Linked DNA regions of Homo sapiens: all the other regions are reported to be linked to region 3. The links are microRNA targets in miRTarBase. Many come from high-throughput screens and were not tested one by one. Region 3 holds a microRNA gene; each other region holds the end of a gene's coding sequence.
The links. The annotated mature microRNA hsa-miR-6509-3p reads UUCCACUGCCACUACCUAAUUU and lies in region 3 at 2,844-2,865, opposite strand. An mRNA with a match to its seed (bases 2 to 7 or 8) in the 3' UTR can be bound and repressed. Matches are read on the target gene's strand: a 7mer-m8 pairs with bases 2 to 8, a 7mer-A1 pairs with bases 2 to 7 and ends in A, and an 8mer does both.

Region 1: miRTarBase lists ARFIP2 as a target of hsa-miR-6509-3p. The part of its 3' UTR that is shown has no 7-base or 8-base seed match.
Region 2: miRTarBase lists JMY as a target of hsa-miR-6509-3p. The part of its 3' UTR that is shown has no 7-base or 8-base seed match.
Region 4: miRTarBase lists GRAMD1B as a target of hsa-miR-6509-3p. Seed matches in the 3' UTR shown: 7mer-m8 at 1,652-1,658, 8mer at 3,888-3,895 and 7mer-m8 at 4,132-4,138.

What each region holds. Positions count from the first base shown.
Region 1 is chr11:6,470,490-6,477,607 of GRCh38, forward strand. It overlaps ARFIP2 (ARF interacting protein 2), which reads right to left. Exons shown (of 8, transcript NM_001376558.2): 8 at 6,030-6,779. The coding sequence ends at 6,624. TRIM3 (tripartite motif containing 3) reads right to left here and starts at 3,452. Exons shown (of 12, transcript NM_033278.4): 1 at 3,302-3,452. RefSeq lists enhancers at 2,113-3,052, 3,053-3,991 and a silencer at 3,349-3,578.
Region 2 is chr5:79,315,237-79,322,354 of GRCh38, reverse strand. JMY (junction mediating and regulatory protein, p53 cofactor) reads right to left here. Exons shown (of 11, transcript NM_152405.5): 10 at 6,045-6,355; 11 at 1-749. The coding sequence ends at 6,048. It overlaps LOC102724530 (a long non-coding RNA gene), which reads left to right. Exons shown (of 3, transcript XR_001742756.1): 3 at 4,721-5,346. Among named protein-coding and RNA genes, the nearest start is that of JMY, 83 kb to the right of the region's middle.
Region 3 is chr7:135,204,163-135,211,280 of GRCh38, forward strand. It overlaps MIR6509 (microRNA 6509), which reads right to left and starts at 2,916; the gene lies at 2,832-2,916. It overlaps WDR91 (WD repeat domain 91), which reads right to left. Exons shown (of 15, transcript NM_014149.4): 2 at 5,414-5,593; 3 at 4,629-4,836; 4 at 2,958-3,040; 5 at 1,766-1,896; 6 at 106-271. RefSeq lists silencers at 2,748-2,907, 7,067-7,118 and an enhancer at 4,697-5,896.
Region 4 is chr11:123,622,043-123,629,160 of GRCh38, forward strand. GRAMD1B (GRAM domain containing 1B) reads left to right here. Exons shown (of 20, transcript NM_001387025.1): 20 at 464-5,725. The coding sequence ends at 553. Among named protein-coding and RNA genes, the nearest start is that of SCN3B, 29 kb to the right of the region's middle.

The DNA of each region.
Region 1 (7,118 bases), not on the chromosome of region 3:
AACTCCTGGGCTCAACTAATCCTCCTGCCTTGGCCTGCCAAAGCGTGGGGGTTGCAGGCATGAGCCACAGCACCCAGCTAGAGTTCACTGTTTAATGTGATGAATCTGAGGTGCCTATGGGATGTAATTCAAGTGGAGAGGTCCAGTTGGCAGTTGGAAAGATACGCTGAAGCCTAAGAGAGAGGTCTGGCCTGGAGACATGAATGTGGATGTTGGTGCAGAGATGGTTCCTGAAGCCATGGGCGTGGATGACATTACCCTGAGAGGGTAAAGAGAGAAAGGAGGGTCTATCACCAAGTCCCAAGGAACCTCAATATTTAAGAGATAGGCCCAGGAAGCAGAGTCTGCAAAGAAGATTGAGAAGGCACAACCAGAGAAGCAAGAGAATCAGGAAACAGATGTCATGAATGCCAAGGGAGAAGAGAACTTCATGAACAAGGGAGTGAAATGCTGCAGAGGTCCCATTATTTAAGCCCCAAAGAGGCTTTCATTAACCTCAGAGCATGTGGTTTTCAGGGGATGGAGGACAGGAAGCCAGATGCAGGGAGTCAAGCAAGAAGCTGATTGTGAACAAATGAAGACAGCCAGTGCTGACTCCACTAGATCCTGGACATCTGCAAAGGATGTGTTTCAAGGCTTTTCAGTTTCTCCAAATTCTCAAATAGCATTAATTTTCCCCAGGACTTCCTCCTACAATCTCACAGGATTCCCAGTACACATGAGTTACACAGTTGTGAATGGAGGTAACCAAGGCATTGTTGAAAATGGATGCGAGAGGTCAGCTAGGCTCATTTGCTTGCTAAAATAACTCACGTCTACTCACTAGCTTCCAGGTTTATCTGATCATTTGAGACCTCAAAAAAATGACAAATGACTGCAGGTTACAGTCTTTGGGCTTTCTCTGAAACAAATGAAGCCTTGGATGAGGCAAAGTCCTTAAAGCCAATGAATCCTTTAAATAAGATTAGCAGGGAAGGAAAGCAATGAAATTCATGGCCATCTCCCCCAACATTGCCAGACTGAGTAAAGTGAATGAACCATTCAATCAAACTTCTCTGGGCACACTGTGGGCCAGGTCCTTCAGCTGTGAAATAGAGACACAAAGCTGAATCAGACACACTCCCTGTCTTTCACAAGTTTTTAGACTAATGTGAGAAACAGAAATGGAAACACGTAACTACAATGTGATAAGTACCATGATATTGACATGTTCAAATTGCTACAGCAGCAAACTGGAGGAAGTACCTAACTCTGAGGATGGTACAGAATAAAGAAGGCTTCCAGAGGAAGGGGTATTTGAGCTGGGTCTTGAGAGACAAATAGGACATTGATACGTACATTGGGAAAACAGTGAGTAAAGAAACAGAAACATGAGAAACTAAGAAATATGGAACAGATGGACAAGATTGCAAATCTCCAAAAGGCAGAGGTTATACATGATGCTTTTACATCCTAAAAGCATAAAAATAAATATGCTAAAAATAAATAAATCTAAATAAATAAATAAATAAAAGGCACCACCACTCACCCACCCACACAAGCGAGAACCCTGGTAGTCTTCTCAATTACACCTTTTCTTTCACCTTTCAGATACAAGCTATGACTACATCCTCAATTCTGCCTCTGAAATTTGGCTAGGTTTAAAAAGTTAGGAGATCTAGGATCTAGTCCTAATGCTGTAACTAACTCCACTAACACAAGGTGAAACTCTAGGTAAGTTCCAACCCCATTCCCTTATTTGTAAATTGGGAGAAGAGGGATGTTTTCTCAAAATCTGAGATTCCCAAGGTTCCCTCTCAAGCCAAGGGCTTCCACAGATTGTACCATGAGCCCATGATTAAATCCCATCTTGTACTACCTCGATGATTTGACTTCTAGTTTCCACTGTTAGGCTAAATGTGTTAGAGGATGGTCTTAGTTGCCTCCCCTCCACACTCCCCCTGCCCCCTCGCCCCCGTAAATAAATGTTTGCTGAGTTTTAAGTCACCTGTGACACTCTATGAACGCTCTCTATTCTAACCATATGGTTTTTCTGCTTTTCTGAACCTGGGCTATACTATCCCAACGATGGACTCTTTGCTCAAGTTCTCTCGGCAAGAATGCCATTGTCTCCTAAGTGGCTGTGGCAGTACCTGGCACACAGGAAGTACTCAGTATATGTTGGTTACAGGAGAGCTCTGTTTAAATCTCTGCAGTTCCCTTTCATCAGAGAGAGATGCAAAAGTAATGGCAGTAACAAGACAAGTGAATAAAGTCCCAAGAAGAGAGACCTCTGCTTAATATAAGGAAGCTTTTCCACAGCAGAAAGTAGCAAGTGCTCTGTCACTGGAGGCATACAAGCCCAAGGAGGCAGGGCTACTGTCAGGCCTGCAGCTCTGATTCCAATTCTGCAGCAAATCATCCCCTGCTTAGGGGATGAATGGGCACCAGTGAGCTAGACAGACTGGCCAAGGGAGACCTGTGATGTTTTCTGCACCTGCTGTGACCTCCCAGATGTGATCTTCCTGCTAGGGCCAGTCCTGAGTTTCTGTTGTCCACATCAGAGAACCCCCACACCAAGAACAAGCCCAGGGCCTGCCCTCAGTCGAACTGACCTCCCTGGGGTGCAGCCTGCCCCTCCAACCTGCAACCATCTGTCCCTGCAGGTTTGCAGCCCAGGATCTGAAGCCAATTGCAGAAGGGAGGAGGTCAGAACCAGGGAGGGGCCTGGGGTCCTCCAGGCAGGGCTCAGGCTACAGGAGAACCAGAGGGGTCCTTTCCTACAAAAAAACAGCCTCCACATGAGGCTTTCTGTCCACAGAGCAGTGCATGGGGAGGAAAGGGTGTCCTCCATCCTGACTGGTGGGCCTGTGGGTACCAGAGGATGGAAGGGGCGGGGGGTGGGGTAGGGTGGGGGTGGGGGAGCAAGGGGTGGAGGTGTCTGCACCAGGGAGAAAAGAGCCCTTCAGACAAGATGGGCCACAATATTCCAGAGTCCCACTCAGCACGCACCACCACCACCACCCTCGGCCGCAGCGTTCAGCACCCTCCGCCAACACACACAAGCTCCCAAACCCCGCGCTCCCCTAAGGAACCATCACCCATCCACCCGCGCCTCCCCGCCTCAAAACAGGGACCTCACGTGAGCAGCCACAGCCCGAAGAATCCCCCTGCTGCTCTCACGGACATGGACACGCCTCACGTGGGCAGAGAGAGGCACAGCTTTTGAAAATCATCTGTGCCCCCACCCACAGACGCTCCGACCCAGACCCGGGCTGACAGGAATACAAACGCACCCTTGGGGCCCGCCCGTCGCACTCACCGCGTTGGAACAGGATGCGAGGGCAAAGCTCGGACTGCGGCCACTCTGAAGGGCCCGCGGCGCTGCTACTGCTGCCAGCGCCCGTCCGCCCGGCCCTGCCCGCGCCTCCGCCTGTCCCCGCGCCGGCGCCGCCGCCGGACTAGCCGCACAGGCCGGAGGGAGGGGCCGGGGCGGGGCTGCGGACCGGCCGGGGGAGGGGGTGACTCCAGTAGGGAAGACCCACCCACGCCCCGCCCGCCGCCGCGGAGGCCCCGCCCACCCCGCCTGCCCACCCCTACCGCACCCGCACGCCCCCCCGCCAACGCCTCCACCTCCTGCGGACGCTGCCTCCTTGGTGCTGCTAGGGAGCCGGCGGGCCGGCGAGCCGGATCCCGGATCTCGGATCCCGGATCTCCGCCAGCTGCCTCCGGCTCCGGGAAGGGCGGTGTAGTCGGTCTCAGGGATTGAGATGAGACTCCGTCAAGAAAAGGCAGCTGGGGCAGCAGGGATTTCGGACTCTGGGAGCCTGTCTGGGCCGCCTGCCTCCTGGAGGCGCCCTTTCCGGCTTCCTTGGAGTGCTCCTATGGAATATGCTAGTCTATCGGCTGACCAGGAAGACGTAGAAACCGTCTGTACCTCAGCACGATCTCTGGGCGGCAGAAGGGCAGTACCCAGAACTCTGGGAGAAGGAGTTAAGGGGTAGAAAGGTGGGGGATTTGATTAGGCTTTGGGCGCTTCAGGAGCCCCCTCCTGAGGAAATTCTGGTTCAGACCATCCAGCGACTCCCTTCCTCACACCAAAGACACTGGACAATTCTCAGAATCATCGCCTTGTGCAAAAAGCAGCCCCAAGTGGAAAATAATTGTAACAGTTTACAGGGACTGAGTGGTTATTATGTGCCGACACAGAACTAGCCACTTTACATATATTATTTAATAGTCAGTAGGTAGCATCTTTTATTAGCCCAATTTTACAATGGGAAAAAATAGGGATCTTGCTCCCCAGACGTTAGCCCTCATCACTCAGCTAGAAAGTGGCAGAACCTGGAGTTGAGCCCTGTTTTTAGGCCCTACAACCAGCATTTGGAGACTCGGTACCTTTCATGTTGAAAAATCCCCAGTGGCCCATTAAGTGGCAGCTCATATAAGGACCACCTTCCCTGCCCCAAAAATCAAGCTCTAGTCAGATGATTGCAGGCTGATCAAAGCCCAGAAGACTGTCTGGGAGCTGCAGTATCCATGACAAAGGGCAAAGTCATGCCTGTGAGGATCCCTGCACTATGGGAATCTGCTGAGTGGGTCTTCCCCTTCCTCCAGCCTTCCAGAGGTGGGGAAAATCCTGAAAAATTCTGGTTTCCTTGGCCAAAGGGCATACAGGTGATGACACCTAGCCCTGACTAAACCAAAGTGCTGTTAGGGATCTTTCTTGTGACCTCTCCACAAGGTTCAGATTTAGGCTCAACACCTGGGTGCAGCAGGAGCTTTGGGAACCGCCTCAACCTCTTATCCACCTGAGTTCAGCACATAGCACAAGATGCTCCAGTGCTTGTGAAGGAAACCCAGACGGGGATCATGCTTGCAGTTTTGGGCTGGGGCTACTATGCTACCCAAGATGAGGGAACTGGAGTCTAGATGACACTATCTTAAGCCTCAGAGGACTACTTTTCTCAACTCTATACTTCTCCCATGCAGTCAAATTTCTGCTTAAAACACTTCTCAGCTCCTTCTCCAGAGGGCAAAAGTCCTTAACCAGCCTGCAGTCTTCATCTAGCCACTCCCTCTTCATTTTTCATTCCAAGCAATTCCTCCCAGTTCCTACTCAGAGCCTTCATTATATGCTAGCCTCTCTGCCTGGGATGCTCTTCCCTTTACCCTGCCTGTTTGTCATCTACTCACCCTTCAGGTCTCAGCTTTTTTTTTTTTTTTTTTGAGATGGAGTCCCGCTCTGTTGCCCAGGCTGGAGTGCAGTGGCGCAATCTTGGCTCCACTGCAAGCTCCGCCTCCCGGGTTCACACCATTCTCCTGCCTCAGCCTCCCGAGTAGCTGGGACTACAGGACTACAGGCGCCAGCCACCGTGCCGGGCTAATTTTCTTGCATTTTTAGTAGAGATGGGTTTTCACCGTGTTAGCCAGGATGGTCTTGATCTCCTGACCTGGTGATCCGCCCGCCTCGGCCTCCCAAAGTGCTGGGATTACAGGAGTGAGCCACCGCACCTGGCCAGGTCTCAGCTTTCAAACTGACATCCCCATTTCCACCCCAGTCCATGCCAGATGCCCCTCCTTTGTGCTCCCACAGCGCCCTCTGTACTTCTGTATCCTAATACTTATCACTGTTTTGTAGTTGCCTGGTTACTTCTTTCCCTCAGTAGGCCCTAAGCACTGTGGGCAGGGACCGTGTTTTATTCACTGATGTTTCCCCAGGGCCTAACGCAGTCCCTGGCAAATGAAAGCACTCAGTAAATATTTGCTGTATGAATGAATGCATGATGAAGGTCAGCAAACCCAACCCCCTCTGGATCTGGTGCTCTTAAGATCCATAGCTATCTTGGTGCTGGCTAAAGGACAAAGCTTTGGCTCCAACTGAGGCTGGGAGAGAAGACTGGGCCTTCAAACCATCTCTGAAACCTGTGACTTCAGCTGCCTGGCCCCAGCTCTTTTGACTTGATAGGGTTCTGGTGTTTGATTAGACTGAGCTTGTCTCCACCCAGGCCACCCTCCTAGAGTCCCCGACAAATTGACCTCGCTGGGCCTGCTTTTATGAAAGGTTTATTCCTAGTGCTAGATCCCAATCTTCTTGGGCTCTAAGCACAATTAAACTGGGTGGGTGGGTGAGGGTAGGCCTATTCAGATGCAAGGCCAGCAATGGGGCTCCCCATTATCCCCACCCCTTTGGTCCCAGTCCCCTTCTCTGCAATGGGCACGCATAGAGGAGAGACAAAGGGTATTAGACGCAACATCATTGGCCCAGGGGAGTCCGAGAAGAGCTGCCATTGGCTGACAGGGCATTTTCAGGCTCTGTCATTGGTCAGGGAGCACACCCCAGCCTGAAGAGTGATGCCATTGGCCAGGGAGTGGTTTTGTCATAGCCGTTGGCTGTGAAGTGGAAGGAAAAGATCTGGGAATGAAGCCCTGTGGCCAGGAAGATAGACAGGGCAGCAACTTCTGGGCCTCCAGGCCCTCTTCCCACCATAGCAATGTGGGCAAAACTGGTGTCAGGCCCCAGCCAGAAAAAGGAGCCCAAGCCAGAGGGCAAGTGACAAAGGATGTACCATGTCCAATCTCCCACACCCTGGGGCTGCCCTTCCCAATGTCTTTCTTGATAGCCAAGTTGGGCTGGGAGCAGCTCACTGCTCCTCTAGCCAGGAGGGTTTCTCAGCTCCTGGAGGCCGCAGCTTGATGTTGAACTGCTGCAGGGTCTGCTCCAGCTGTTTCTGGTTCCCAGCAAAGTAGGCGGACACAGCATTGTGGAAGAGCAGCAGCTGCTTGTGCATCACCTTGATCTGGGGGTCCAGCAGGGTCAGCTAAGGCTGGACTCAGGCGCCCTTCTTGAGGGTCTATGAGCCTGAGCCCAGGCACAGACCAGGGGCACAAGGACTCTGCTCTGATGGTGCTTTTGGGGTAGGGGCTGAACTCTACCCAGGGAGTCAAAGGAGAAGGGTCAGTATGATGGAAGAAACCTCACTGGATTTGTGGGCCTAGGGTTTTTGTACCCCAGCTCAGGGGGTGATTTTTCCCAGTTATGTTCCTGGGACCAGCAGCCAAATCCTCCAACAGGAAAGGGCCAGGAATTGGAGGGAGGGTGATCTGGAAAGGCCCAGGGGTTGAGGGGGTGAACACTC
Region 2 (7,118 bases), not on the chromosome of region 3:
ATGCACATAAAATTCAAACTATTATAAATTCAAGAAATATGAAGAGTGATTTAAAAGCACGGAAACTTCAAAACCTTACAAAGTATAAGACTCCTAAAAATATGCCATGTTAAATGTATCATGTTGTGAACATATTAATAGATGTATCTCCATAAATGCAGCTTTTCAGATGTTGCTGAACATCTTTATGAAAAATCCTTTGGAAATGAGTAATGCGGACATTTTAGGTGTATTTCCATTTGATTTTAATGCCTGACTTACAGCTATCATGATGATAAACTTTCTCAGAGTGTCACAGTATTTAATATAAGCTGATATGGAAGAAGCTATTTTTTCAGATGACTTTTCAGTGCATTGAAAGATGGTTCTCAAAGCAGTCCCAATACAGCTCACAGTAGATCTCTGTCAACCCAGTGTTCTTCCAACTTACAGCAAGCCCTAGCTTAACTGGCCATTACAAGGATGTAAATATGTGGATGGAAGGAGAATGTGCTTAAAAAACAGAAATCTCCAGAAGGCCTTTTCTTCATTGCAGTCAGGAACATTGCACATGTAAAATTCATGTTAACCATCATCTATTGGAACGACTGGAAAGTGATAACCTGCCAATTGTGCTTCCTTTCTTCACACCACTGAACCAATGAACTTTGGATCTAATGTTATCCAACTGAGGAACCAAGTGCTTAAACTGTCATTTTCCAAAAGAATCAGAACCAATCTTGAATGATATTTTTCTTCTGTTATGTCACCTGTTTACAAACAAAATAATACAGACCATTAAAAAAAAGACCCTTTAAAGATACAGTGTATTTACGTTCCCTCAAAAAGTGTAAAAAAGACATTTTTTACAAAAGGCCATGACTGTATTCTTAAAGCAGTAAAAATGAAAACAAAATAATCTAAATACAGATTTTGATCACTTTTAAAAGACTATTAGATTTTCATTTTTATTATTTTTACTCTAACACTGTATGAAAACTATATACTAAAAAGGTAAATTCAGTCTAAACTATTTGCCCCATAAACTGCTACTAGAGTAAGAACAACTAAATGGTGTCTTCAAAATGCAGTAGAAACTGTTTTTGTTAGACTAACATTTAGAGGACAGGATTAATACCAATCTTTAAATGGATACTTCACCCGGGCATTTTATTGAAAAGTGTTGTGCTTAAGATCTATGGGGCGTACCCAAAGCACAGGAGCATTTATATAAAAGACATACTCTTCAGATAAAAGCTGACAGGAACATGAATAAAGTACCAACTTAATACAGTTCTGCATTTTCTAATACTGTAGCTACATGTGGCTAATGAGCACTTGATATGTGTCTAGTGTGACTGATCTAGTTTGATTTAAATCCAGTTTGATTTAAAAATCTAAAACAGTAAGTACTATTTTTCCATTAAATACAATTTTGCTGTTTTGGTAGGACATTTCTCATTAAGTATCAGATCCTTAGCATTCAAACTGAGATGTGCTACTAGTATATATAAAACATACACTGAATTTTGAAGACTTAGTGTGAAAAAAAGAAATAGAAAGCAATGTCCTTAGTTTTTAATGTTGATTATGTGTTGAAGGATACTACTTTGGCTACATTGTGTCAAATAAAATATTACAAACATCAGTTTCACATGTTCCTTTTCATTTTTGATGTGACTATTGGACATTTTAAAATTACATGTCTCAAACTATATTTCCTTTGAACTACATTGCTATAGTTACTTTAGAAGACTCCTACAGGGGCCTAGCACAGTGGCTCACGCCTGTAATCCCAGCACTTTGGGAGGCTGAGGAGGGTGGATCAGTTGAGGTCAGGAGTTCGAGACCAGTCTGGCCAACATGGTGAAACCCCTCTCTACTAAAACTTCAAAAAAATTAGCTGGGCATGGTGGTGCGCCTGTAATCCCAGATTGAACCCGGGAGATGGAGATTGCAGCGAGCCAAATACGGCGCCACTGCACTCCAGCCTGGCTGACACAGTGAGACTCCATCTCAAAAAAAAAAAAAAGACTCTCACAGGAAACAAACTAGAAGCTTATTTATTTATTGAGACAGATTTCCTCCTGCCTCAGCCTCCCAAGTAGCTGGGACTACAGGTGTGAGCCACCACGCCCAGCTACTTTTTGTATTTTTAGTGGAGATGTGTTTCGTCATGTTGCCCAGGCTAGTCTTGAATTCCTGGGCTCAAGTGATCCACCCACCCCCAGCCTCCTGAAGTACTGCAGAATTACAGGCCTGAAACTTAAAGTTCACACTCAGCCTGAAACTTATTTTAAACCTCTATGTAATTACATACATTTTAAGAAATTTCCTTGAGCATGACTATGGCTATCTCTGGAAAGAGAAGAGTTTCAGAGGGGAACGAACAAGGCAGAACAAGGGACCTTCATTACCTACTTTATGAATATTCAAGAAATTAGCTCTTAAAAGTATATAAGTACATTAATGACAAAATCTATAATCAAGAAATCTGGCCAGGCACAGTGGCTCACACCTGTAATCCCAGCACTTAGGGAGGCAGAAGCAGGTGGATCACCTGAGATCAGGAGTTTGAGACCAGCCTGGCCAACATGGTGAAACCCCATCTCTACAAAAATACAAAAATTAGCTGGGAGTGGTAACACACGCCTATAATCCCAGCTACTCCGGAGGCTGAGGCAGGAGAATCTCTTGAATCACGAGGCACAGGTTGCAGTGAGTCAAGATCACACCACTGCACTCCAGCTTGGGCAACAAGAGTGAAACTCAGTCTTGAAGAAAAGAAAAAAAGAGAGAGAGAAAAAAAAAAGGAATCTAATAAATTAATGGGAAATACAAATTGCGGTAAAGCCTTCTTAGCCATTTGTAGATAAAAAGTTCACAGCCTTTTAGTCTCCATGATCACAAAGTAGTGATACACAGCTACTTCATCACTGCCTAATCAGTCCATACTAGTCTATGGTTTGCTTCTGGGTTAGCACACATTTAGTAAAGGGAGACTGCAAACTTCCAAGCTCATATATTTTCTAAGTGTTTCACTGTTTCTCTCTCAACATTGTACCACATATTCCAGCCATCAGCCGTCTCCCACACCCCCGAAAAAAGTTTTAAGCAATTTTCAAAGTGTATACACCATGCACCATGTTAACATCTGATACTAAGGCTAAATTAGTAGCCAGAAGCTATGAGTAACATCCCAGCCACTTGAGTATACAAAATGCTGATGCAATGTCTAGGGTTAGGCAGGATATGGTGGGATGGGAGGAGACAGACAAGGATAGGCTGACTTGAGCAGCTGCTGGTGTGCTGTGAATGGGCCACTGTGGACCATCTGTAATGAAAGAGCTAAACACACATTTATGTGAAGGTCCAGCTGTGGAATTAGTCAGTGCAAAGATGGTAGTTTTAGGCACAAGCTTAAGCAGCTTCCTGAGAAGCTACAGCAGAAGGAAACAACACATGGTAGTAAGAACTGTAAAGTGGGAGACAACCTACAAATATCCACTATGGAAAAGATTCCCAGTTAGACATACCTGAGAGTCTAGACATTCACAAACTGATATGCATCCCTCTCTCTCTCTCTCTCTCTCTCTCTCTCTCTCTCTCTCTCTATATATATATATATATATATTCCTTTACAAAGCATAGTGGACATATGTACAAGCAAAAATAACTCGAAGTTACTTTGGGATCCAAAAACATAAGTCATACAAAGTGACTGTTACATGTAACTGTATACATAATAGGAAAAAAAGCAGGATAATGCTACTACTGAATGTTGGCTGAATCATGGTGAATGTAATATTACCCTTTTTAAGTTATTGATTGATGCAGATGCTGGTGGAGAGGTACTACAGGAATATTTACCTAATGAACCCATACCCAAAGGAACAGGTGAAACTGCTTTCAGTAATATTTTACCTAATGTAACTAATAGAATCTTTCAATATGTAATCAGTTGTTTAAAAACTGACATACATTACATTTTTATATTATGTCTTCAAAATCTAGATGTGTACTTGCATATACATTAGATCTACTCAGAATTCTTTTTTTTGGGCCAGGCATGGTGGCTCACACCTGTAATCCCAGCACTTTGGGAGGCTGAGGTGGGTAGATCATTTGAGGTCAGGAGTTCGAGACCAGCCTGGCCAAGATGGTGAAACCCTATCTCTACTAAAAATACAAAAAAAAAAAAGAAAAAAGAGCCGGGCATCATGGCAGTCGCCTGTAATCCCAGCTACTCAGGAGGCTGAGGCACGAGATTCACTTGAACCCACGAGGTGGAGCTTGCAGCGAGCCGAGATCATGTCACTGCACTCCACCCTGGGTGAGAGAGTGAAACCCTGTCAAAAAAAGATTTTTTTTCTTTGTTGTTCTACTCAGAATTCTTAAGTCAAGGACAGAATGTCCATTTTTAATAAGCTCCCCAAGTTAATTCTTATGATCAAACATGTTTTAAGAATTATTATGCTAATCGGGGCAACCATAAGGAGACCCTGTCTCTACAAAGAAATTAAAAAATTAGCCCGGCATGGTGGCATGTGTCTGGAGTCCCAGCTACTTGGGATGCTTGATCCCAGAAGGTTGAGGCTGCAGTGAGCCATGAACGTGCCACTGCACTCCAGCCTGAGCAACAGAGGGAGACTCTGTCTCTAAAATAAAAAAAGAAATTCAACAAAAATAATTCACAGGGCTAACACATGAATTAATTATTCCTTTACTTATTCCCTTCTAGGACTCAAGTCTTCCCTACTTTGGTGAATGTTTGAAGCCTAGAGAAACATATTCCATCAAGAAAGAATAATAATTAATAGAACATGTTTGTATACTCTATAAATTTTATACAAATTACAACATTTCAGTTACCATCATTATAAATTTGATATACTGTTTAATTTATACCATGTTATCTTTAATGTTTCTATATATTTGGTGTAATCTGTGCCATATTACTCTATAATTAGTATATTAAAATGTAGTAGACTATAGCTCTCTATTATATTAGGAGAATGCTACATGTGTAACCAAAGAGAATCTTAATATGTATAGGAGTATTCATTAGATATGTAGATAATTTTTATATATTAATGATACCTGCAAATTTGTCTAGATAATACAGTAACTGTGACAATAAGTAGTTTTTTTTAAGGGTTTAGAAAGTTAAATAATCAGACAATGCAACAATTTTTCCAGAATGATCTTAGAAAACTCCTTTGAGGTCAGCTAACATGACATCAAAATTCAGTGTGCATAACAGTTTGTTACTGAAATACTTTGTCAGAAAAGGCTTTGCATTAAAAAAAAAATTGACGTATTGATTTCTTTTTACAGACGGGGTATTGCTATATTGCCCAGGCCGGATTTGAACGCCTGGGCTCAAGAGATCCTCATGCCTCAACCTCTGAGTAACTGGGACTACAGAAGCGAACCACTGAACCTGGAAAGCCTTTTTTTTTTTTTTTTTTTTTTTTAAGACTGAGTCTCACTCTGTTGCCCAGGGCAGTGGCACGATCTCAGCTCACTGCAACCTCCGCCTCCTGGGTTCAAGTGATTCTCTTGCCTCAGCCTCTCGAGTAGCTGGGATTACAGATGCCCGCCACCACGCCCGGCTAATTTTTATATTTTTAGTAGAGAAGAGGTTTCACCATGTTGGCCAGGCTAGTCTTGAACTCCTGACCTCAAGTGATCTGCCTGCTTCAGCCTCCCAAAGTGCTAGAACTACAGGTGTGAGCCACTGTGCCAGGCCCTTTTCTGTTTTTTTAGGGCAAGAATGAGACTGTCACTTTACTTGCAATTACAGCTGTATAGCAGAAATTTTTAATGAGGAGGACATTTTTAAAAATAGTATTTACATAGCAATAATCATTAAAAAGTTATCTTAAGTTTCTAGAAACTACAGAATTAAGTAAAACCTGAAGTTCATAAATTTGTGATCCATGCTAAAATTGGGTTATAAAACAAACGATATGCCTCAGGCTCAATAAAAAATACCCCAAACCTCATCATCCGATATAAAACCTGTATTACTGAATGCTACTAAAGACAATAAGGCCGTTTACTTGTTAGTTCTCCCAGTCTGTGCAAGGTAAAGCCTCCTCTTCGTCCTCTGACTCTGGGGATGCTTCTTTAATTCTTCTAAGAGCTTCATGGATGCTCCGTGTTAGAGGGTCTGTATCGGGTAGAAGTGTGAAGGATTCTCTCAAAACATCCTTCTGTACCTTCTTCAATTTTACCCCTTTCCTTATTTGTGCCAAGATATTATTACTATCATCTTCATCAGGAAAAGGAGGCAGAGTTCGCTGTTCAACCTTTTTCAGATGAAAACTACCACGCTTCAAGGAGGCTAGCACCTCATCCATGGGTGAGCTCACTTTGGAAAATGAAACAGAACAGTATTACAGTTAGGACTGCACTTAATTAGAATGAAACTGTATAACCTCTACCGTTCGCAACTGTGAAAGCACAGGACGCTGAAACACCATCTTCAAAATGGATCATGAAATGTGTGCAGAAGGTGATCAGAACACAAGGGATCCTAATTATCCTTCTTTTTAGAAAATCCCAAGACCCAATCCATGGTGGGTACTGTTGGTATTCCTATCATTTCCTACATGAGAGAAGTGACCAGATTGGGAACTGGGAGGTGGTCTTAGTAGTATTATGGGTGTGATTCCCAAAGGATTTCCATATTGCAGTTGCTCCACCCAAATTCAGAGTGATGGGGTTACACATTTTGTTTTTAAAAATTAATTTTTGTTTATTATGGAGACTGTGCTTTTTTCATTTAGTTGTTTTACATGTGAAATCCTACTCAGATTACATCAAGAAATGTTTTATAGAATGGTCCTTCAGGTTAAAATGTAATATACAAGTAATATGTAACATTTATATAATGTTCTCCCCATGCAAAATGCAAATTCCTTAAAGGCAAAAGGCAAGGGTTATTCTCTGCTCTTTTTAGAAATAATTTTATTTGTGCTTGAATCTCTCTTAACAAAAAAAATTAGAAAAAAAAATAGTAACCTTATTGAGGCACATCTGTCACATTGTAAGTTGAACAGATTACTCCCTGTTCTTCTTTGCTTCTTTATACAAATACACAAAAGTCCTCAACAAATGTATGAACAAATGTT
Region 3 (7,118 bases):
CTAAAAGGAGGGCAAACAAGTCTACACTTGACCAGGAGGTCTGGAAGCACAGGGAGCTGTCACGGCCTTCTTGGCCAGAGTTAGAGAGGCAGGACTTGTGCTTACCTGACCACCGAAGGACTCTTTCTTGGCCGAGCTCTGAGGTTGAGGAGGGCCCTGAGCAGGCGACAACCTTGAGGGGCTCTTCTTACTCTGAGGCAGCAGCGAGGACAGGAAGCCCACACGAGGTGACTGGGAGAGGGAGGCATTCCTTTGGCTGCACACCATGGCACTGGTCAGCAAACACACCACAGGGTCAGAGGGCTGAAACAGGATGTGGAAAAACCAAGAACATAGACCTCCCGGGCTATGGATGACGTTAAGTGACCAGGCCTGGGTCAGGTCCAAGAGCCTGGGCTTTAAGGTGGTATTATCCTTGGCATCATTTTTTTGCACAAAGGGAGCCAGCAGCTTATCTGTTACAAGGGTGAAGTCTGCGGCTCTTCTTTGAGGGTCACAGTAAACTCAGAGCTGTCTTGTCCAATAGCCACTGGTCACGTGTGCTACTGAGCAAATGAAATGTGGTTAGTCCAAATCAAGATGTGCTAGAGATGTAAAATTGACACTGGAATTCAAAGACTTGGCATGAAAAGAATAAAATAGCTCATTAACATTTTGTTTATATCCATTACATATTGAAATGATGTTTTGAATATACTAGGCCAAATAAAATATATCATTAAAATTAACTTCATCTTGTTTTTTTTTTAACATAGCTACTAAAAAAATTAAATTACGTATTTGGCTCGCATTTTATTTCCATCAGAAAGAACTGGCACCACCACTAGAGCTATTTCATCTGGTGCAATACTTGGCTATGTGGAGGTCTGGAATCCGGCTGCCTGGGTTTGCATCGTGACTCACCAATCACTGTCTTCCTCACCTGTGTGTACCTCTGTTTCTTCAACCACTACTATTATTATCACCAGCTGGGGCTTCTGCTTTAACTGGCTGTTTCTGAAGGTCAAATACCTCTCTCTAATCTGCCTTCCTCTTTAAACCGTCAGAGAGGTGCATGCTTCTACTGAGGAATGCATCCAACCTGTGGTTACCAATCTTTCCATACATGAGATGCTCCTTCCAATGCACAAAACCTTCCCAAGACTTTACCACAGTGGTTGCGTTTTTATTTATCCTGACTACACATATCTGGATGTAGAGCTGGCAGAGCTGTGCAGTTCCCCACCTCTAGGCAGAGCCACAGGCTCGGAGGCTCAGAACTCCTAGAGGACTTCTGAGGCCATGGGGACCTTACTCATAAAGCTCTGAAGCAAGGCTGGACACGGTGGCTCACGCCTGTAATCCCAGCACTTTGGGAGGCCAAGGCAGGTGGATCACTTGATGTCAGGAGTTGGGACTAGCCTGGCCAATACGATGAAATCCCATCTCTACTAAAAATACAAAAAAAATTAGCCAGGCATGGTGGCATGCACTTGTAATCCCAGCTACTTGGGAGGCTGAGGCAGGAGAGTCTCTTGAACCCAGGAGGCAGAAGTTGCTTTGAGCCAAGATTGTGCCACGGCACTCTAGCCTGGGCGACAGAGCGAGACTCCATCTCTAAAAATAAAAATAAAGCTCTCAAGCAAGAGCAGTGTGTGCCAGGAGGCTCTTCCGCAATTCTCCTTCAGCAGGCACAGAGGACTGCAGGCAAGGCAAGATCAGAGGGAACTGTGGGGCTGAGAGCACAGAGGGCAAAGAAAAGGAAAGGGCCGTCACACACACTCACAGTTCCGAGTCCCCCAGGCGGTCCATGTTGGAGACATAAGGAGGCAATTTGTGTTGGACCAAGGCCTCTTCCTCTTCTGGCTGTTGCTCCTCTTTCTTCAGTCGGTGGATTTCAGCTTGCAATGCAAAAAGCTATACAGGGGTGGGACTGAGTTAGCCAATGATCTCACCTAACCTTCCCTCTGCGGAGGAAGATTTCTAGACACATCGCATCCAAGCCCACTGGTCTGAGTGCCACTCGCCTCAGCGTCAAGGGGCCCATCTCACTCTGCTCACTGCAGACTGGGAAAAGTGACTGCTGTCACTGGACAACAATGAGGTGAGAAAACCAAAAACCATTAGAAATCCAAAACCCATTTTCTTTTTAATCATTTGACTTGCTTCCTCCTAGATTCACTGAGAAAAATAGCTCCACCCAACCTGTTTTGCTTTTTAGAATCTACAAAATCAGGCTTTAGAACTCTCAAAGCCTGACTCTGGAATGGAAAAAAAAAAAAAACCTGTTAATGAACTACAGCGTTTTTAACCTTTTGCCTGAAGAAAATTACATATACACACACCCCAAATCCCAAGAATCTTAAACCCCATAACCTAAACAGCCTATAATCTTCCTTTTCCTAACAATATCACCTAAGGAGATCTTAATTTCAGGAAAGAGAAATGTTCCTCAGGCAACATGTACAGGCAAATGTGGGTCCCCTGGCTCTATTGTTTTATCAAACTAGAGAAGCATATAGCTGAGTAGGAACAACTAAATTATATATGGGTTATAAACTATATATATGTGTGTGTGTGTATATATAGTTTATATATATACATATAGTTTACATATATATGTGTATATATATATACACACATATATAGCTATACGTGGAAAGACAAAACAGACACATGAAAACAGGTTAGTTATAAGGTGGCATGGATGCATATAGTCTTTTTCTCCTTAAAAGTTAATTACTGTTACTATATTGTTCATGCTACATATCTGACTTAAAATATGAATCTCGCCTCTGGTTTTCAGAGACTGTTACTCTCCAAATCCCCAATACTGACTTTCTGGTGACTCATTTCCATCTGAGAAATTAGGTAGTGGCAGTGGAAACCTGATTAATATAGTGTTCCACTGCCACTACCTAATTTCACACACAAAAAGCAGAAGTACTTCCTCAGGAGCAAGCCTGTTCAGAACAAACCTTCTGACGCAGAACTTCATTTTCTTCTTGAACCTGGTTAGTCCTCTGACACTCCGCATCAAAGTTCAGGATCACAGGGACTGGTGCACGAAGTTAAAGAATAAGCCAGCCCCTGAAATGTTTAAACGTCCTTCCCAAACCCTTGACACACCAGTAAAACACATGAGACACAGGGACACAGAGAACAGAGTATAGGAGCGGTGCTGTGGGCTCTTGCGGGCTTAATGAAATAGTCGCTCCCTACAGTCTTGTCTCTAAGACTTTCTCTAGGTCTGGCCTCATTTCATTCGGACAGATTCACAGACGCATGACCATCTGCCTGGCCAGCCCACAGAGGGGACATAAATCCAAACCTAAGCATTTTCTCTCAAATACCAGAAGCAAAGAGCTAGCATCCAGTGGACTTCACAGCCAGTCTGAGCTTTAGTGAGGTCACTACATTCAGCTAAAAGCAGCCCTGGAGGCCAGTGGCTCTGCAGTAATACAGCCAATGAGGCAGAAAAGACCAGTCAGTTGGCTTCGCCTCCCCAGGTTGAGCCTCTCCCTGGCAAAGGTTTGGACTGAGAAGAGAAAGCTTTCTGCAGATTGCGTGGCCACCCCAAGAACAACGACAGTCTATAGCTTGGGATACTGGTCCTTCTCCACTGCCTCAGGCAGCTTCAGTTAGGAGGAGCACAGAGCAGACAGGGCCTCAGAACTGGAGAGGGGACTAGAGCCCATATGTGTGTAAGCTAGTTTGAGAAGCACTGAAAAGATCTTGAGTGACAGTTTCGATTTCACTGGAGGGCCCACAAAGTTAACTGGAGAGCCCTCAGGATGAAGAGAGGGAACAACGGGGAAGAAACAAGGCAGTTCTGGCAAGGGTGGAATTCACACTCATCTGGGGCACAGAAAGGGTGAAGGCAGGAAAGGTGCCCTTCCCACCTCCACCAGAAAGTGTTCCTCCCAGAGGCCAAAACGCCTGCCCATGGGTGGGCCTCTAAACACCCAAGTTTATCAGTGCCTCACCAGCCAGCCCCATTCAAGCCAGACTCCCTTCTCCTCCTCTAAATTTCCAGCCTAGGGAGCATGAACAATGGCCTTGGGAGCTCTGGCTTGTACACTTGGTAGGCTGTAAATTATTTACCTGCATTCTCATTCATTCCCCCTCTCCAATACCCGCATATATATTCTTAAAGCTACTGTGTTCTCTGGCAACTTGAGGAACACTGAAGTTACTATTAGAGACAATAACCCAAACACTAACACAGACAGAAGTTCCAACCCAAGAAGTCTTCTCATCTGTACCTAATCCCAGCAAAGGTATATCCCCGGGAACACGTTTCATGCACAGAGAGGGTACTCTCAAGGCTGCCCGGTTTCTCCAAGCAGCAGCTGCCTTCCAACCCCAGTGCCTGCTGACAAAGCCAGTACTAGCACCCCACTGCTGCCACTGTCACTGCCCACACGTCAGCTAATACTTCAGCAGCACAGTGTCAGAACTAAGATTTATGATTCCCTGGCTTACTGACAAAAACAACCACAATTTGTCCAGCCCCCTCATGTGACCCATAAAAATGGTCCCTGGGCATTTTTGTAGAAGAAATGCCTGTATGGAGACCAGCGGGCTACTGATCCTGAGGTCTGGGTGCCTCAGGCTGGGCCTTCAGCCCCAGGCAACTGAAAGGATATGCATGCACTGAAACAGGACGCTCAGGAAGTTGTGCAGGGACACAATGAAGGTGTCAGCCCACTGTCGAGAAAAGTAGGTAGCAAAGGTGGGGTTGGTGTCCGGGGATGGCAGGAAGGGCAGGACAAACCAATCCTTCCACTCAGCCTGGTTCTGGAGTTCCGTGGCCTGCTTTGCAAAGAACTCCTGAGCCTTGTCATTTCTGTTTGTCTGCCAAGACACAAGGAGGTAGCAAGGAGGGAGGAGAGACAGAAATCCAGAGGTAAGACTCTTCATCATTGCACAGCAGACAACCTTTGACTATCAGCCTGCCAGGTAAGTGGCAAAATAAAATTCCATAATATAAAGGAAATCATCACTCTTTTCTCAAGGAACTTGTCATTTCAAAGCTGGTTTAAGCTGAAGTTCTAATGATAAATCCCATCCTAAAAATTAATCCCTAGCTGATGTTCAAATAACTAAGTGACTCATTCCTCCAGGTCAGCTATCATCTTTATTACTCAAACTTTAACCCAGCTACTTATATTCTTTAAAATACCACCTTTGTTTTAAGCTTACATGCTTAACATAAAAAAGGAAATAGGAATGGGGAAGACAAGTCAGATGATCTACAGATGACGACAAGGAAAAAAAAGAAGAAAAACAGTCAAAAATAATTGCACTGTAACTGCTGCACTCTTTCCCATAGTCACATACAGATTCCTCCCTAGGAACTGGAAGAAAATCTATTTTGGGATCAAAGAGCTCCTTCCACCAAGGGAAGCAGAACCCCTGAATCAACAGGCACCTGGATTGTGTAGACAAGATAAAATCGAAACAGGCTGGTTTTCAGCTTGTGGATTGTGGGTCTGTATATATCCTCCAAGCGGCTGAAGAGCCGACGCTCCAAGTAGCTCCAATAATCCCGAAGGGCAGCCAAGTCATACACCTGCATTAACTGCTGCAGCTGGTCCACAATCTTATCCACCTGGCGAGAAACATGGATGGAGAAGGTGGTAAGGGACAGAAGGGAATTCTCCCCTCCATGGAATAAAGCTTTTTCCTCTTGTCATGGCTTCTGGGTGTAAAAAAAAATTTGTAAGTTAGCAATCTATAAAATTTTCAAAACATACTAATGCAACGGTTTTTCAGTAATTTTCTGATGTTAGAGAAGTGGTTTGACCCTCTAGCAAGCACGGAAATTTCAGGTGTAAAAGGGCTCTGGCCCAGAACCTAAGAGATCTGGCTCCAGATCTTGGATCTGCCTCTGACTTACTTGATCAATTTGGCAGTGTCATCAGGCCAGGCACCGTGGCTCACGCCTGTAATCCCAGCATTTTGGGAGGCTGAGGTGGATGGATCACCTGAGGTCAGGAGTTCGAGACCAGCCTTGCCAACATGGTGAAACCCCGACTCTACTAAAAATACAAAAATTAGCTGGACGTGGTGGCACGCGCCTGTAATCCCAGCTACTCGGGAGGCTGAGGCAGGAGAATCGCTTGAACCCAGAAGGCAGAGGTTGCAGTGAGCTGAGATCGTGCCACTGCACTCCAGCCTAAGCGACAGAGTGAGACTTTCTGTCAAAAAAGAAAAAAAAATGGCAGTGTTGCTTAACTGTAGTTTCAGTTACCTCACATTTTTAAAAAAGGGGGTGGGGTGAAGAAGAGCTATGAGACAATCTCCACAATTCCCAGATCCCAAGGATCATGAGGAGGTGCATGGACTGACTCCTTCAAGTCATCAAAGTTCCACGAAGCCGTGGTAGCTGCTCAGAGTGTCAGCCAAGGAAGTCACCTTCTTGTGAGGAGCAATTACAGCAGAGTACAGAATCTGGAAAAGGGTTTGGATATCAATACCAATCCAATGCCCCTAGTTTATAGATCAGGCCACTGAAGCCCAGAGGGGTGAAATGATTTGCTTTTGCCACTAAGTAGCCACTAACTTTGGCCAGGCAGGAAACCAGATCTCCTAACTCCCCTCCAGTGCTCTTGCTGTTAGCTCACTGCCTCTCATTGAAGTCAGTACACACAAACATACAAATCACACACATATACATTCCAAGAACCTCGCAATGGAAAATCATTTTAGAGCAGGGGAAGTTTGGGTTTCTCTAATGTGCCATGAGGTCTTCCACAACTGCAGAAGCAAAATTGCCGATGAGTCCCTGACGAGGCCATTTTAAACAAACACCGCAGATACTTGAACGCAGCTAACGTTTTGGACTGCAGACTTCTTTGCTTCCACTGCCACTGGAAGCCAACACGAATATCTGTTGCCAAAACGCAACCATCTACCTAACCTCGGCTCCTAAAACCTCATCGCCATCCTGGCCAAGGAGGCTGGAGTGGAGACAGAACCCTAGACCAGGAGCCGGGGCATCGGGGCTCCAGCCTCGGCGATGCTCCTGACTCGGGGGGCGGCTTCAGGCAGGTCCTGTCCGTCTGAGGGTCTCAGTTCCTCATCCGTCAAGCTGGGGTCGGACGCGCTGAGGTCTCCGGCGCCCCGGCGCGAGT
Region 4 (7,118 bases), not on the chromosome of region 3:
CAGGGTCTTGCTCTGTTGCCCAGGCTGGAGTGCAGTGGTGCAGTCATAGTTCACTGCAGTTGCAAACTCCCGGGTTCAAGCCATCCTCCCACCCCAGCCTCCTGAGTAGTTAGGACTACAGGTGCATATCACAAAGCCTGGCTATAATTTTTAAATTTTTTATAGAGATGGGGTCTCTCTGTGTTGCCCAGGTTGGTCTGAAACTCCTGGCCTCAAGTGATCCTCCCACCTCTGCCTCCCAAAGTGCTGGGATTACAGGTGTGCGTCACTGCACCCAGCCTGACTGTCCCCTTTCTGTTTGAAACAGTGTTGAGAACCACCCTTGCTTTAGGTGCCCGACTCTTTTCAGCCCCATGGCGTGGTTGGAGGCCTGCCCTAGGCGGGTGTGGGGAGAGGGCTGCTCGGTGGAGAATCCCACTAAAAGCGCAGACCCAGGCCTGGGGTGGGGTTTTCTGTCTTGCAGATGAAGGACTCGCTCATCAACCTTCAGAACGGCATCAGGTCCCGCGACTACACGTCGGAAAGTGAAGAAAAGAGGAATCGCTATCATTGACAAGGCAGGAACAGGGTGGCTGCAAGAGGCCTGTGCAATACATGTACATAGACCATATAAATATATATATATAAATATATATATATACAGAATATAAATATATATATTATATACAGATTTTAAAAAAGAGATAATGCCTATGTACCAGGGAGAAGGAGCGGGCCCTCCCGCGCCCTGTGCTGGCCGGAGCAGCGTTTTCTTATGGTGGAGCAGCTGAGGAGGGCAGGAACCGCCTCTCAGCACCGACCTCCCCTGATCTCCCTCCTCCCACCCTCTGTTCCCCACCCCTTCCCTTGCTGGCCATTCTTGGCTTTTAGAAGGGAAATGTTGAGCCAAAGTTATGCCTGCGAAGACCCTAAGGTCTCAAAAAGAAGTCTTAAGACGGCATTGCTTAAGGTGCTTCATTCCCTAATCCCCTTTTGATTTGTTTCCAAAATAAAAGAGAATCTTTTCTTCCCTACCCCAGGCTTCCCCAGGCATTCTCTTGGGAACACAGAAGCATCAAGGGAGCCCAGTCTAAACTCCTAGGGTTGGCCGCCCACTTGATCCAGACCGTACTGAGTGTCAGATGGAGAGGATGCTTGGAAAGCTAGGAAGGCTGCATTGTGTGGTGGCAGGCTCCCGAGACTCGTGTTCTGAAGGATACTCTCCTCCATCACCCCTGCACCTTCCTCCGACCTGTGTAGGGTGTGGACCCAGTAAGGGCTGGGAATTTCTTACTTTCCCACCCGCTTTCTCTCTGGTCTTCTCCCAGGCTGGATCTGGGCGAAGTGTCACTTTTTAGTGCCTAAAGTCCTATTGTTTCTCTGTGCCCTAAGAGCACATTGTTTATTAGCCAGGGTGGAGCGTTTTCGACCTTATTAAACCTCTTTTAGTGCTTCTAAGCAAGTCAGGTCTGTGGCTCTGAGGCCTTCACTTAGAGCTGTCAGTGTGATTTCCAGGATGAGTCAGGGTGTGCTGGGCCCTCCAGGATTTGAGAGAGGGAGAGAAGGCCCTTGCCACGTCCGGGGTGCAGGGTCTACCCACAGAACACTGTGAGTGGTGAGCACCAAGATGGGTTGCCAGCCTCATTTGCTCTTTGAACGAACCAACATTAGCCAGTGGAGACGACTGTCTGAGACAGTTTGCACATAGAAAAAGCATCTGAGCCACTGGAGGGAAGGATTTGGCAAAGGTGCATGTGTTTGGGCAGGAAAAGGCCAAGTGAAATCTATGCCCTACGGGAGCCATTCCCAATCCTGAGTTTCTCAGACTTGGCAATGGGGGTTCTGGCGGGGGTTGGAGTACAAATCCTGCTCTGGTCTCTGGCCCCACAGAGGTGTAAGATCATTAAGAAGTAGAAGGCACTAGCTTCAAAGAGTGAGACATTCAGGGCCTTTTCAGCATTGGCCCACTAGCACCATGCATTTATCTGAATTCACGGGGCCCTCTGGGCACATTCATCATCCCTCATACACTAACTACTGTTTCTTCATGTAATGACCAAAAGAGTCCCACCAGCTCCAGGCAGAGCTTGTGGAGATTCATGAAAGAGTCATAGCCAGTTTGGCATGCAGAGGTCTTCAGTCTTGCTTATTCTTCTCCTGGGCTTCTTGACACAGGGGCAGAAGAAACCCCAGATGTCCCAGATGTCCCAGAACATCAGCCCAAAAGACAGAAGATTTTATCACTCATCTACCCCAAAGATAAAGTTGTATTTTTTTCTTAGAATGGCCTTTAATTCCCTGTGGCAATTACAGTTTTTGACTTTTCCATGTGAGAATAAGGCCTTGGTATTTCCCTAAGGGCAGGATCAGAAAACAGGAAGGTCCATGCCCAGGTGATCCTCCAAGGGAGGAGGGTGAGGAGGCTCCAGGGCATGAGCTAGAGTGGATATTCCTCCCCTAGAAGAGGAGATGGGAGGAAATGCAGTTTCATGTAATCCCTGTGAAGAGTGCCTATGCCCACAGCCCAGTGGGTCCTTGTTCAGTTCTTGTCCAGGCCTTTGGGTGAGGGACACTGGTAGGGATCAAGGCTCATGGGCTCTGAGCCAAAGAAGGAGGCATGGTGCAGACTGCTGGAAATCTCCCCCTTGGCACAGCCAGAAGCCAAAACTATTCCCAGAAAGTTTTGAATGCAAAACTTGTAGATTCCTGAATTTATTCCATACATAATTATTTCCTTAAGTTATTTAATTATTAAAGGTGCCACGGTGGGACCTTTGGGATGACTTAAAAAGGGTTCTTTGTTGGGAGTCAAGTGACAGAGCAGACCTGGCCGCAGGGAGTTGTTCTGCTTCTGCTTTACCTCTCAGGACCATTCCCAGGAGGAAAAGGTGGCAGAGAGGGCAGTACTGAGTATGTCAGAAGAGCCCTCCTGGTTTTTTAGCGATTTGAACCCACTAGACAATGTGTGCACATAGGGAATGTCCTTTAAGAATCATGGATCTCTTGTAGGCTCTCTGTGTTCCAATAATTTTTTGACTATCATACCAGGAAAAAACCAACAACTCTATTCATTCCCAAACAAAATCTCTTCCCCCTTAGTCAATAGCTTGCGAAAGACATCTTAACTCACCCTTGCAGATAAGTCTTGGAGTGAAACAAATAAATAGCATTGTATTCCTGGCCATTTGCCTGGCTAGTTGCTGTCTACAAGGGAGCATCAAAACATCACTACTTCTTATGTAACTTCTTCCAGCCAGTGCTTTTATTGTTCGTTTTAGTTTACTGGGGACACACAGGAGTCTTTCTGTAATGACTTATGTGGTAAAATGTTTGAGAGTTTGCACTCAATTTTAAAGAATTTGCAGTTTCTAACAAGGTGAAGAACAGCTATAGGATCTAAAGTTCCATTACAGCTTACTGTGAAAGAATTGACAAGACTGGCCTCAGACAAGCTAATCATGGTGCGACTCTCTCCCTTCCTCATCCACCTCTTTGGGGACAAGAGGATTACATCTCAGGCCAGCAAGATCAGCTGCTTGAAGCTCTGTGTAAGAGCACTGCACTGACGGTTTGGAGACCTGAGCCTGGGTCCTGACTTTTCCATTGACTAAGCTCTGTGGCCTTGGGCAAGTCACTCCCCCTCTCTGAGCTTCAGTATCCTCCTGTCACAGGAGGGAGTTGGGCTAGATCATCTTTAAGGTAGGTTCTAGCTTTGACATCATCTTGGGGGTTAGGCCAGAGGCTGGGAAGACTGGGTGGACTTTCTCAATTGCTCTGCCAGGAGGGAACAAGCCCAGAGGCTGAAGCTTCCCAGTATTTAGAGGTGTGGTAGGGCAGTGTCTGCATTCCCAGGAGACCCAGGGTGATTAAAATTTATTCTTTAGGTGGCTAGGAGGGCTGGGGAGGCCCAGTGGAAGAGAGAGAGAGAGAGAGAGAGAGAGAGAGAGAGAGAGAGAGAGATCGAGCTTGATGTATTGCTCAGTATTCACTTAGAAGGGTTTCTTTCTCTTTGGCCTAGTTTGTGAAGGGATCTTCCTTTGGACTTTCTCTAAGTTGGGAGAAGAACATTCTTTTCAATGGAGCTCATCTTCTATCTCTAGGGTCTGTTCAGCCTTTCATCTATCCATCCTTCCTCTTTATTGGTAGAAGAAACAGTGGAGAGTAGCCACTTCTGGTTCTAGCACTTCTCTTTTGTTAAGATAGGGTTTGGATTTAGTATGAAGCTTTGGCTAAAACCCTTGGGTTTGCCTTAGAACACTGACACTAAGAACCTGGAATGACATGGGGAGGACAAAGAGAGCTCAAGAGGAATGCTTTGTGAGAAGTGGATTCTCTCCGTGTCCCTGCCCCCCACCCAAACTTGAACTATACCTATTACATTTCCAGGCAGTATCCCTAAGATGAGATCCTGGAGAAAGGACTAGGGGAAGTATCTTTCTGGATGCTTGTGGTCCCAGAAGGGTACTTTCTGTGTCATACCATGCCACTTCTTTAAGCTCTTCAGGGCAGCCAAAGCCAGCCCTTTTCTCCTACTGCCCCCAGGAGAAATAGCACTCTTCTCCCTTCCCCCAGATGGCAGGGCTCTGGCCTCCCTACACCTCATACCCTGCCTGCCTCCTCCAGGAGGAATCTCCGGGGCCCCTTCCTGACTCTCCCCACCTTCGCCACTTGTCTCTAGGCTATGGGACAATCATCCCATTCACCACTTGACATCCTTGACATCCTTGACTTTCATTCCCCCAACCTCCAGCAGGTTGGCCCCAATCCTCTTCACCTCTGTGTTTTCTTCTAGAAGATGCATTTTGGGTCTGAGAGGAGCATTTTCCTGGAAGGCCATCTTTTAAGGCCCCTGCTTGCTGTCATAGTGCAGAGCAGAAACTTGCACACTATTTAGAGAGCTCCCTTCCCACCTCTCTGCCCAGCCTTGTTACCTCACTTCTGCTCTGGCCATGGCTGTGAAGGGCCCAGCCAGCTCCCTGTTTTGATGTTCTGTGCAACAGCTCCGGGGTCTTGTGACTGGAGATCCTCAACAGGCCCTGGAGCCAGGACTGGAGTCTTGGCAGCTGATGAGCAGCACCTTGCCGGCCAGGAGGAGCTGATGCTGACGATCTCCCCAACATCTGAAGGCTTAAAGAACATTGTCGTTCTTCAGCCCTCCTTGCTTCTCTCAATACAATAAGACATTGCAGAAGCAAAAGGGTGGCCTCTGCTCCAGGCAAGGCAGCTGGCTCTGTCTGGGGCATCGGCCTGGGGCTTGGGTGCCACGTGCTGAGATTGCATAGTCAAAACAGCCATTTTTGCCAACAATAGCTTGTGGCTCCCCACATTTTCCTACCCTGCACTCAAGGGCCAGACCACTCTCTGCATGGACCAGACCATCTTCCCAAACCCATGGTGCTTTTTCCCCAACTCAACCTAGACTCCAAGGTGGGGAGGGATGGGTCAGAGGCCATAGTGGCCCCTGGATAATCCTGACGTGGGGTGGAGTGGGGTGAGGCAGAGGGAGCAGCCCCAACACCTGCACTGGGCCATCTATGGGAAAGAACACGGGTCGAGTGCAGTCGAGTTGTCTGGCCATCTGTATTTGGATCTATAACTGTACTTTGCCTGGCGCTGTGCGCAAGGTCAGAAAACTTACTGCTAGTACCTAGAAACACACAAGGCTGCCCAGCCAAATCTTAATGTAAAGTAGCTAGAGCCATGGAAGTACAGTATGAATTAAAAAGAAAAAAGTATTGAACTACAATAATAAATGGTGTGCGTGTTTATTGCTTGATCTATGAATGCTCGTCACCTCAGATGTTTCTGGTCTTCCCAAGTAGGCTCACAGCAAGTCCTGAAGGCATGTGTTTGTAGGCACGCTTATAGACACACACGCACACACACACGCACACACGCAGCCATCCACCTTCTCACGGGAGGGAGGGAGGCCGCCTGATCAACTGGAATGGATAAATTTTGGAGTCAGACCTGAGTACAAAGTATAGCATCACTGTTTACCAACTGTGTGGCCTTATGCCCCATCTGTCACTCCAAGCCTCAGTGTTTCAGAGATAATACATTTAAAACACACATCGTTCTTGGTATGGCTGCTGGTATTATACTAAAATATTTTCTTTTGTTTTGAGATTCACTGTCACCCAGGCTGGAGGTAGTGGTGCATTCATGGCCCACTGCGGCCTTGACCTCCTGAGCTCAAGTGTTCCTCCCACCTCAGCCTCCTGAGCAGTTGGGGCTACAGGCACACACCACCATGCTAGGCTATATATTTTTTTTAGAGATGGGGTCTCACTATGTTGCTCAGGCTTGTCTCAGACTCTTGGCCCCAAGTGATCCTCCTGCCTCAGCTTACCAAAGCGTTGGGATGATTTTTAACCTTTTTTTTTCTTTGAGATGGAGTTTCACTCTTGTTGCCCAGGCTGGAGTGCAATGGCATGATCTCAGCTCACTGCAACCTCCGCCTTCCAGGTTCAAGCAACTCTCCTGCCTCAGCCTCCTGAGTAGCTGGGACTACAGGTGCCTGCCACCATGCCCGGCTAATTTTTGTATTTTTAGTAGAGATGGGGTTTCATCATGTTGGCCAGGCTGGTCTTGAACTCCTGACCTCAGGTGATCCACCTGCCTCGGCCTCCCAAAGTGCTGGGATTATAGGTGTGAGCCACCGCACCCGGCCGATTTTTAATCTTATGATGAGTAGTACTGTTGTTGCAGGAGATTGTGGTGGACTGTGAATCCCGATGATGGTTTCTTATAGAACTTTTCCCTCTTCGGGCCTTAACACTTCCAGGAAGATGAATGTTGAGAGACTGCTCCATGTTCTTCTTTTATGTTACCTAAACTGGTGGAGCTGAGAGCCAGATTGGCTCCTCCCTTCATTAGGTCAGCCTTGCAGGGAGCTCCTCGATGCCTGGTAAGGAAACTTGTTTGATGTCAGGCAAGAACATAAGTGACTCTTGTATTCCTTTGTATTGGGGTAGAGGAGGAAAGGGAAGCGGAGAGGCTAGATCACACATTTAGTGTGTGTTTAATGTAAGGCTATTACATGGTTTTCATTCTCATGCATATCCACAGATTGGGTATGGGAATTTGAAGCAGGCTGGGGTGCTGGGGGAAGCCATAGTCTATGGTGCAGACACACT